Linked DNA regions of Homo sapiens. Each later gene encodes a partner of the first gene's protein in a complex. Links are inferred from orthologs where the notes say so. Each region holds a gene or a part of one and is shown in the gene's direction. Other genes may lie near its edges.

Region 1 (3,908 bases):
CCAGCTACTCGGGGAGGGTGAGGCTTCAACCTGGGAGGTGGAGGTTGCAGTGAGCCGAGATCGCACCACTACACTCCAGCTTGGGCGACAGAGCTACACTCTGTCTCAAAACAACAACAAAAACCCAAAAAATCTTCATATATAATACGCGTACGTACACGTAATAAAATGTGCCCAGTTTGTGTACTGTTGATGAATTTTAATAAATGTTTACACCTGTGTAAGCACTACCCTAACAGAACATTTCCTTTCCATCACCTTAAATATTTCCTGGGGACTTTCAGCAATCTATTTCTTCTCCCCCTCCTCCTGAATACAGCCTCAGGCAGCCAACCACTGATCAGCTATTATTATAGATTAGTTTTGCCTGTTCTAAAATTTCTTTTCTTTTTCTTTTTTTTTTTTTTGAGACAGAGTCTTGCTCTGTCACCCAGGCTGGAGTGCAATGGCGCGATCTTGGCTCACTGCAGCCTCTGCCTCCTGGGTTCAAGCGATTCTCGTGCCTCAGCCACCCAAGTAGCTGAGATTACAGGTGTGCGCCACCAGACCCAGCTAATATTTGTATTTTTAGTAGAGACGGGGTTTCACCATGTTGGCCAGGCTGGTCTCAAACGCCTTGACCTCAAGTGACCCACCCGTCTCGGCCTCCCAAAGTGCTGGGATTACAGGTATGAGCCACCGTGCCTGGCCTAGAATTTCTTATCAATGGAATCATACAATATGTATTAATTTTGTGGCCTTTGAGAAGTTTTTTAACTGTAAATTGGCTTTATAAATTAGCATACCTTTGAACTCACATAAAGGATGAAGGTTGAATTAGGGTAATTAATCTGTACCTCCCTGAATTGGTTTTGATTCCAAAAATATATACTAAATATAGTTTCCTGTTCCCTATTACAATAGAGTTCATATTTACTACAGTGAAACTATCATTTTCCACTCAGTTGAGACGTTACAAGACTTTAAGCCCCATGAAACATTCTATTTCGTGACCACTGTATACCCAGTGCCAACACTGTCTCACACATAGTAGTTGCTGAGTAAACATTTGTTGACTGAATGGATGTATTTCCCCTGAATTGCTTCTACATGTCTATGTTAGATGACTGGGGTGCTTTTATTTTTTTAGAGATAGGGCCTCACTTTGTCTCCCAGACTGGAGTGCAATGGCGCCATCATGGCCCACTGCAGCCTCCAACTCCTGGGCTCAAGTGATCCTCTTGTGTCAGCCTCCTGAGTAGTTGTGACTACAGGCGTGCGCCACCATGTCCAGCCAATTTTTGTACTTTTTGTAGAGACGGGGGGTCTCACTATATTGCCCAGGCTGGTCTTGAACTCCCGGCTCAAGCTATTCTCCCGCCTCAGCCTCCCAAAGTGCTGGGATTACAGGGATGAGCCACTGTGCCCAGTCGGGATGCTTTAATGTTAGAAACTTAATTACCTTGCGTTTTTAAAGGAATGTGTGAGAAGTGCCCTATTCTGCCTCAAGTGATGGCAGAGGGTGGAGATTGAGACTGGAGGAAGCCCTGTGCAGTACATATCTGTAAGTCATGAAATAGCATCATTTTCCTTGTCTGGTCATATTAAAACGGTGATTAAAAAATCAAGAAAATAAAATCCCACTAGCAGTGTGTCCGAGAATCTTTGTTTACCTCCTCCCTATTGTTATGTCATGACATGGAGCCCAGCTGGGGAATTCTGAATACTAGGTTCTAAAACAGGATTTGTCATAAACGAATTGCTTGATCCTGGACATTCACCTCTAAAATAGACACCTGACCTCGGTGTGTGTGTGAGTGTGGTGAAAATCAAGTGGGAGGGAAAGTGAGCAAGCACCTGAACAAGGTACAGAGGCGCGCGAGGTAGTACCATAATACCATCTACACCAAGGTCTATACTATCCCTGGTCTCCGCTGCGTCCGCCGGGAGGAGGCGGTGCAAGAATGCGCACGCGCGGCCCCGGGCCCGGCCACACCCTCTTCCGCCGCTCCCGCCCAGCGACCTCGCTCCCGGGGCGACGCCCCGCGTGCGCCAGAGTCGCCGAGGTCGTCCCCGGCACCGGAAGTGACCCTGGCGGGTTTGTCTTCAAATTCTCGGCGAGCAGGAGCCGCGCCGGCAGGTGGTGTTGACGATTGAACTGGGCAGTACTGGGGCCGTGAGCGGAGAGCAAAGTGGGCTGGACTGGGTCAGGCCCTCCTTCCTCGCTGCCGGGATCTCCACTCCGCCAATCCCCTGTGCCTGGCGTTGGGCGGTTTCCCGAGGAGCTTGGGCCGCCGCAGGTGAGTTTTCACTCTGGCGGTGCTCTGGGGACCCCCGATTTTCCAGGGCCGGGCTGGTGAGGGACTCGGGGGGCCCACAGCGAGAACCCGCCGCGCAACCCTCCGTGAGCCTGCCTGTGCCTGAGCTGAGGTCCTAGGTCCTTGCTGTTGTCCACGATAACTTGGCTTAGGTGACAGTCCCCCTACCTGAGGAATCCTGTCAGGCGGAGGACTTTTCGGGGGCTCCTGTCGATCCCATCTTTTGATCTGTGTCGTTAGCGAAGTCACCAGCCGAGTTTTTAGTTCTTCGATTTTTCGACTGGTTCTCTCCAGAACCCGCTCACGCCCCCCACCCCGAAACCCTCACAGGTAAAAATCCCGATGGCCATGACATTGGGAGGCAACTTCTTTTCTTAAAATTTGTTAGGTTCGAGTGATATTGTTGGGGATGTTATTTCTTATTTATTCTAGAGCCCGGCGTCCTCTGGAAGGCCTGTGGGCCTTTTGGTTTAGAGTTGGTACCTTTTAGAAAAGTTTTCCCTCGAAACAGTTGTTTCATACAAATGTGATGACAAAGTTAGAGATAAACGTAGATCCTGAAGTGCCTTACAGTGGATAATCTCAAGCTCTTATTTAATCAAAAATAGTTTCCTGTTAAAACCGCGAAGGGCCGCTTTTATATTAGTTACTAACTTCCAACAGCACAGTGATGCTCTTTTCTCTTGAAAGCACTAATTTACGTCTTCCTCTTTGAAATTAGACCTCTAGTTATTGCTGAAAACATTCCCGATGTTTTAGAATGGGTGCAGTAGATCTTTGTCACGTAATCACAATGATAATCACCTTAGTAGATGTTAAGACAGATTCTTGAAATGTTTTTACGGGCTTAAATGTCTCAGTATAAAGCCCTATTTTCTTTTCCAAAAGAGCTGGGTTTTGTTCTTTTTTTTTTTTTTTTTTTTTTTTTTGAGACGGAGTCTTGCTCTGTCGCCAGGCTGGAGTGCAGTGGCGCAATCTTGGCTCACTGCAACCTCCGCCTCCCGGGTTCAAGCGATTCCCCTGCCTCAGCCTCCTTGAGTAGCTGTGACTACAGGCGCGCTCCACTACGCGCGGCAAATTTTTTGTATTTTAGTAGAGATGGGGTTTCACCATGTTGGCCAGGCTGGTCTCGATTTCCAGACATTGTGATCCGCCCGCCTAGGCCTCCCAAAGTGTTGGGATTACAGACGTGAGCCACTGCGCCCGGCCGGTTTTTGTTCTTATACCAAGAAATAGGAGCAAAACTTTGTTTTGTATTAACATTAACAAGTTGTGGCCTGTAAATACCTTTAAAAAAAAAAACACGCAGTAGTGATCAACTTCCCAACATTCCTAGACTATGAAAAGCTATATAAAGCTTCTTTATAGCGTTGGTTATTCAAGAAGCGTTTACATTTTTATAGGTAATAGGCATGCTATGTAGTCCACAAGGGATTCTCCACCTCATTTTGAAACTGGTATCAAGATGCTGACAAATATTGAGGATTAGAGAATCTTGTTGAATTCACTCTATTAACAACATTGTTGAATTTCTATTAACAATAGTTTGGGTTTTTTTAGCCACTTGACTGTTTAAAAAAGATAGTATTATCACATAAATATGGTCAGTGT
Region 2 (3,908 bases), on another chromosome or scaffold:
CGTGTTTCTCCTCCCACCCTCCCAGTAGCACCATTTCAATAGGTGGTGTTTATAATGTAAGGACGCATAAGTGTCATTTACCACTGACTATTTCTTTTTAATAACTTGGTTTCCCTGGAGTTAATAATAGTTCCTTTTTTTTTTTAATCTGTGTGTTTTCTATGTCCATATTACTCATTCATCCCCAAATTCTCTGCCAGAAGAGTAAAGCTCCTCCTGTTTCTTTGAAACCCATCCCATAATCCAGGCGCCTTTTCTCAGAGCCTCTCCTCTGGTCCTAGTGACCTGCAGCCCAGCTGTCATCCTGGGCCTCTGTGTCTCTTCTCTGGGGAATTCTCTCCATCTGTTGTTCCTGGTCCCACGCCGCAACCTTTCTTGGTTTTCTCCCTCTTTTTGATGGAGCACATTCTTTTGTAGCTTTCTGAGAAAATGTGCTGGGAAGGCATAGTTTTGGAGAACTTCCATGGCTGAAAATGACTTTCTGCTACCCCCATCATTTGCTTTTGTGTTTGTTTTATGAGTTTGAGTATAGAGTTCTATGTTGGCAATAAAATATCGCCCTCAGAATTTGGAAGGTGCAGCTTTTCTGCCTTTTAGGTTCTAGGTTGCTATTGGGAGGGGCCGGTGTTGTTCTGATCCCAGATCCTTCACAGGGGACTGGCTTCATTCCATGTTCTGTCTCTTCCTTCCTCTCTCTCTCTCTTTTCTTTCCTCTCTCTCTCTGTCTCTGCAGGCTTTTAGGGTCTTTGTCCCAGTGTTCTGGTGTGGTGAGCCTTGGGGTGGGTCTGCTTCCACCCTGTGCTAGGTCGTCACTGGTTTCATGCGGTTGTGGTCTGGAAACTCATGCCCTCAGTTCTGGGCTGAGCGGAGAGTCTCGCCCACTGCTCCTGTGCTGTGCCTCGGTGCCTTAGCAGGTGGTGCCAGCTCTACGGATTTTTCAAGAGAGGCTGGAAATCTGGAAATTCATGTGCCTTGGTGCCTTAGCAGGTGGTGCCAGCTCTACGGATTTTTCAAGAGAGGCTGGAAATCTGGAAATTCATGTGCCTTGGTGCCTTAGCAGGTGGTGCCAGCTCTACGGATTTTTCAAGAGAGGCTGGAAATCTGGAAATTCATGTGGAATCCACCCATTTAAAAATGTTGACAGCTCATTCAACATTTGTTTTAGAACACCATGCAGGCCAGCACTGTGAGGTCCAAATAAGACCCGTTTGCCTGATGCTTTTCTTTTCTTTTCTTTTTTTGAGACAGTGTCACTCTGTCACCCAGGCTGGAGTGCAGTGGTGTAATCTCAGCTCACTGCAACCTCTGTCTCCCAGGTTTAAGCGATTCTCCTGCCTCAGCCTCCTGAGTAGCTGAGACTACAGGCACGGACCACCATGTCCCGCTAATTTTTGTATTTTTAGTAGAGACGGGGTTTCTCCATGTTGGCCAGGCTGGTCTTGAACTCCTGACCTCAGGTGATCCGCCCACTTCAGCCTCCCAAAGTGCTGGGATTACAGGAATAAGCCACCATGCCTGGCCTGCCTGATGCTTTTTGATAGCCCTTGTTGGATCATCCCGCGTGCCAGGCAGGAGGCCACCTACCTGAAGCCCTGGAGAGGAAGCAGCAACGTGGATTTTGCCGAGGCTGCTTTTTCCAGAAGAGAGCCCCTCTGGCCTGGCTGAGACTTCAAGATTCTTCTGGGCCTCTCCTTGGTTCATGCTCTATGTTGGCGGCAGGGCAGCAGCCATGAGCCACACATGCACAGTGGCAAGGTTCCCTTTGCTCAGGAACAGTGGGCTCTCTGTGTAGGTGGTACTCAATAAAGATGCACGCAGCCTCTTCAGTGATGCTTGCCTACTCAGTGATGGTCAGTTTAAGAACAAAAGAGCCCCAGGACCTCTTTGATAACAAACAGGACTGCAGGCTTTGCGTCTCGGCACGTGATCGCACTGCCTGGCCACACCAGGGCATGCTGTGCTTGGTGTCGCTGAACTCAAGCGGGCCAGGGAGGAGTGAGTCCAGGATGGCTGGGCTCTCATGGAGAAGATGGGAAGGCTCAGGCAGAAGGTGGGCAGCTCCCTGGACCTGAATCCCAGCGCGTGGGCACCAGCCATTCAGTATTCACCGAAGAACAAGAGACAGAAGGGAGAAGCCGAGGGCGCCGTGCCCCCTGTCCAGGCTTTCTCATCCACAATTGTTTTGCTCACAGGGGAAATGTGAGGAATTCCTTGAGGTGGCTGAGAAATGAAAACTGAAGATTGCTGGATTCCTGGGCCCTGGACGGCCAGGGCTGGCTGCTCCACAAGGAACTCATTACGAACTCACGGCCCAGACTCCATCCTCAGAGAACCCGATTCAGTACTGGGGTGGGCCCAGGATCTGGATTTTAATAAGCTTCCAGGTGATTCCGATGGACAGCCAGGTTGACAGATGGGCAAACAGAGGCCCAGGGAGAGCACCGAGCTTAGGAAAACCCCAGTAGCTGCAGGTAGCAGAGCCTGGGACTTGAATCCCGGTGTCAGGACTCCCATCCCAGTGTTGTCTGTTCTGCCATTGGATGGAAGAGAAACTTGCCATCAGCACAGCAGGTAGAGCTAAGACCTCCGGCCCCCCTCCACACCCCCTCGCCAGAGTGCAGGTGACAGTGACAGACAGGCAAATTGAGGCCCCAGGTGTGGAAAGGTTCCAAAGAGAGCTGCTCTGCGGGCATGGTGGCTCACACCTGTAATCTCAGCACTTTGGGAGGCCAAGGCAGGAAGATCACTTGAGGCCATGAGTTTAAGACTAACCTGGGCAACAAAAGGAGACCCCATCTCTATTTTTTTAAAAAAAAAAAAAAAAAGGAGAGAGAGAGAGCTGCCTCATATCGGTTGCCTTGAAAGGCCACCCATCACTGGAGGGTTCAGATGTAGGCTGAGGAGGTGCTCAGCTGGGAGGCGTTGGGGGTTCCTGTGTGGGGCAGACAGACCCCGGAAGCCCCTCCACTCTGCAGTTCCTAGATCCCATGATTGAATGTAGGCATCAGAGGCCTTCGTGGGACAGAAGAGCAAGGGCAGGAGTCAAGCCGGAAGAATGTGGTCCTGCCTGCTTTCCACAGCGCAGCCAGAGGGCAAGGGTAGCTCAGCGCAGGGGATCCCACGGGATCTCACAGGAGGGCGGCCGGTGCTTCATGCAGCCAGCCCACACAGGGTGGGACTCCGCCACATCCTCTCTGGGCAGGGCAGGATTTTGGAAGCCTTGCTGTGGGATCCAAGCTGAGTGGGCTGGGAGCGGGTGTGGACTGGAGCAAGAGCCAGCGTGGCCTCCTTGGCCAGGAGGCAATGCCCAGCCCCCAGCAGCACCTGATAGCTACACGGAGCAAGGAGTGACAGCTGCAGAGATTCTGGTGCAGGTGAATTGGATATGCATTCGACAGACTCCAGAGGGATGTGAAAGTATCCAGACCCAGCTCCAGCGCCAGACAGGGCCAGCTGCAGAGGGGCACTGAGGCCTGGGGAGGAGGAGAGAAGGCCCAGCTTGCGGGACAGCCAAGAGCAGAAGGCAGGCCTTGTGCAGGAAGAAATGTGAATGGGACTAATTAAGACTGGCATTTATTGAGCACTTACCATGTGCAGAGCCCGTGCTAAGCACTTTATGTATGTTTACTCCATTCTGTGACCCAACATGAGGCCCAAAGACAGTAAGTGATTGGCCAGGGTCACACCACCAGTGAGGAGCGGAGCCAAGGCTGATCCCAGTATTGTCTGATGCCAGAGCCCACATCCTGACTTTGGGGGTAGAGAAGATCATACAGTAGAGTTCATTTAATTCACCCAGTGCTTGGATCTTGACTCTGCAGTAAAGTGTTATATATGGAATCTTGAATACCTCCTCTGACAGAGAGCTCACTACCTCACAAGGTGACCTATTGCACCTTGGCTCAAAA

Evidence for each region.
Region 2: the proteins of KATNA1 (region 1) and KATNB1 are in contact, whole or in part, in a crystal structure (PDB 5OW5), measured with the Mus musculus proteins. The link is inferred for Homo sapiens from one-to-one orthologs. Residues at the interface, in NP_035965.2 of Mus musculus: Leu5, Gln6, Ile8, Val9, Val12, Arg16, Ala19, Leu20, Leu21, Gly22, Tyr24, Tyr31, Tyr41, Leu50, Lys53, Trp54, Gln56, Val57, Glu60, Ile61, Val63, Glu64, Gln67, Val68, Asp70, Ile71, Thr74, Leu75, Ser77, Phe78; in NP_083081.2 of Mus musculus: Leu485, Val486, Asp487, Glu488, Ala490, Met491, Gln493, Ile494, Arg495, Gly497, His498, Met501, Phe502, Val504, Leu505, Thr506, Arg508, His509, Leu512, Asp513, Val515, Arg516, Trp519, Thr521, Asp542, Leu543, Ile546, Gln549, Lys550, Leu553.

Annotation. Positions count from the first base shown.
Region 1 is NC_000006.12:149,646,840-149,650,747, reverse strand, and holds the start of KATNA1 (katanin p60 ATPase-containing subunit A1), read left to right. Parts: upstream 1-2,033; 5' UTR 2,034-2,279; intron 2,280-2,504; exon of another isoform or gene 2,505-2,627; intron 2,628-3,908. UniProt on the Homo sapiens protein: Catalytic subunit of a complex which severs microtubules in an ATP-dependent manner. Microtubule severing may promote rapid reorganization of cellular microtubule arrays and the release of microtubules from the centrosome following nucleation.
Region 2 is NC_000016.10:57,745,661-57,749,568, forward strand, and holds part of KATNB1 (katanin p80 WD40 repeat-containing subunit B1), read left to right. Parts: intron 1-3,908.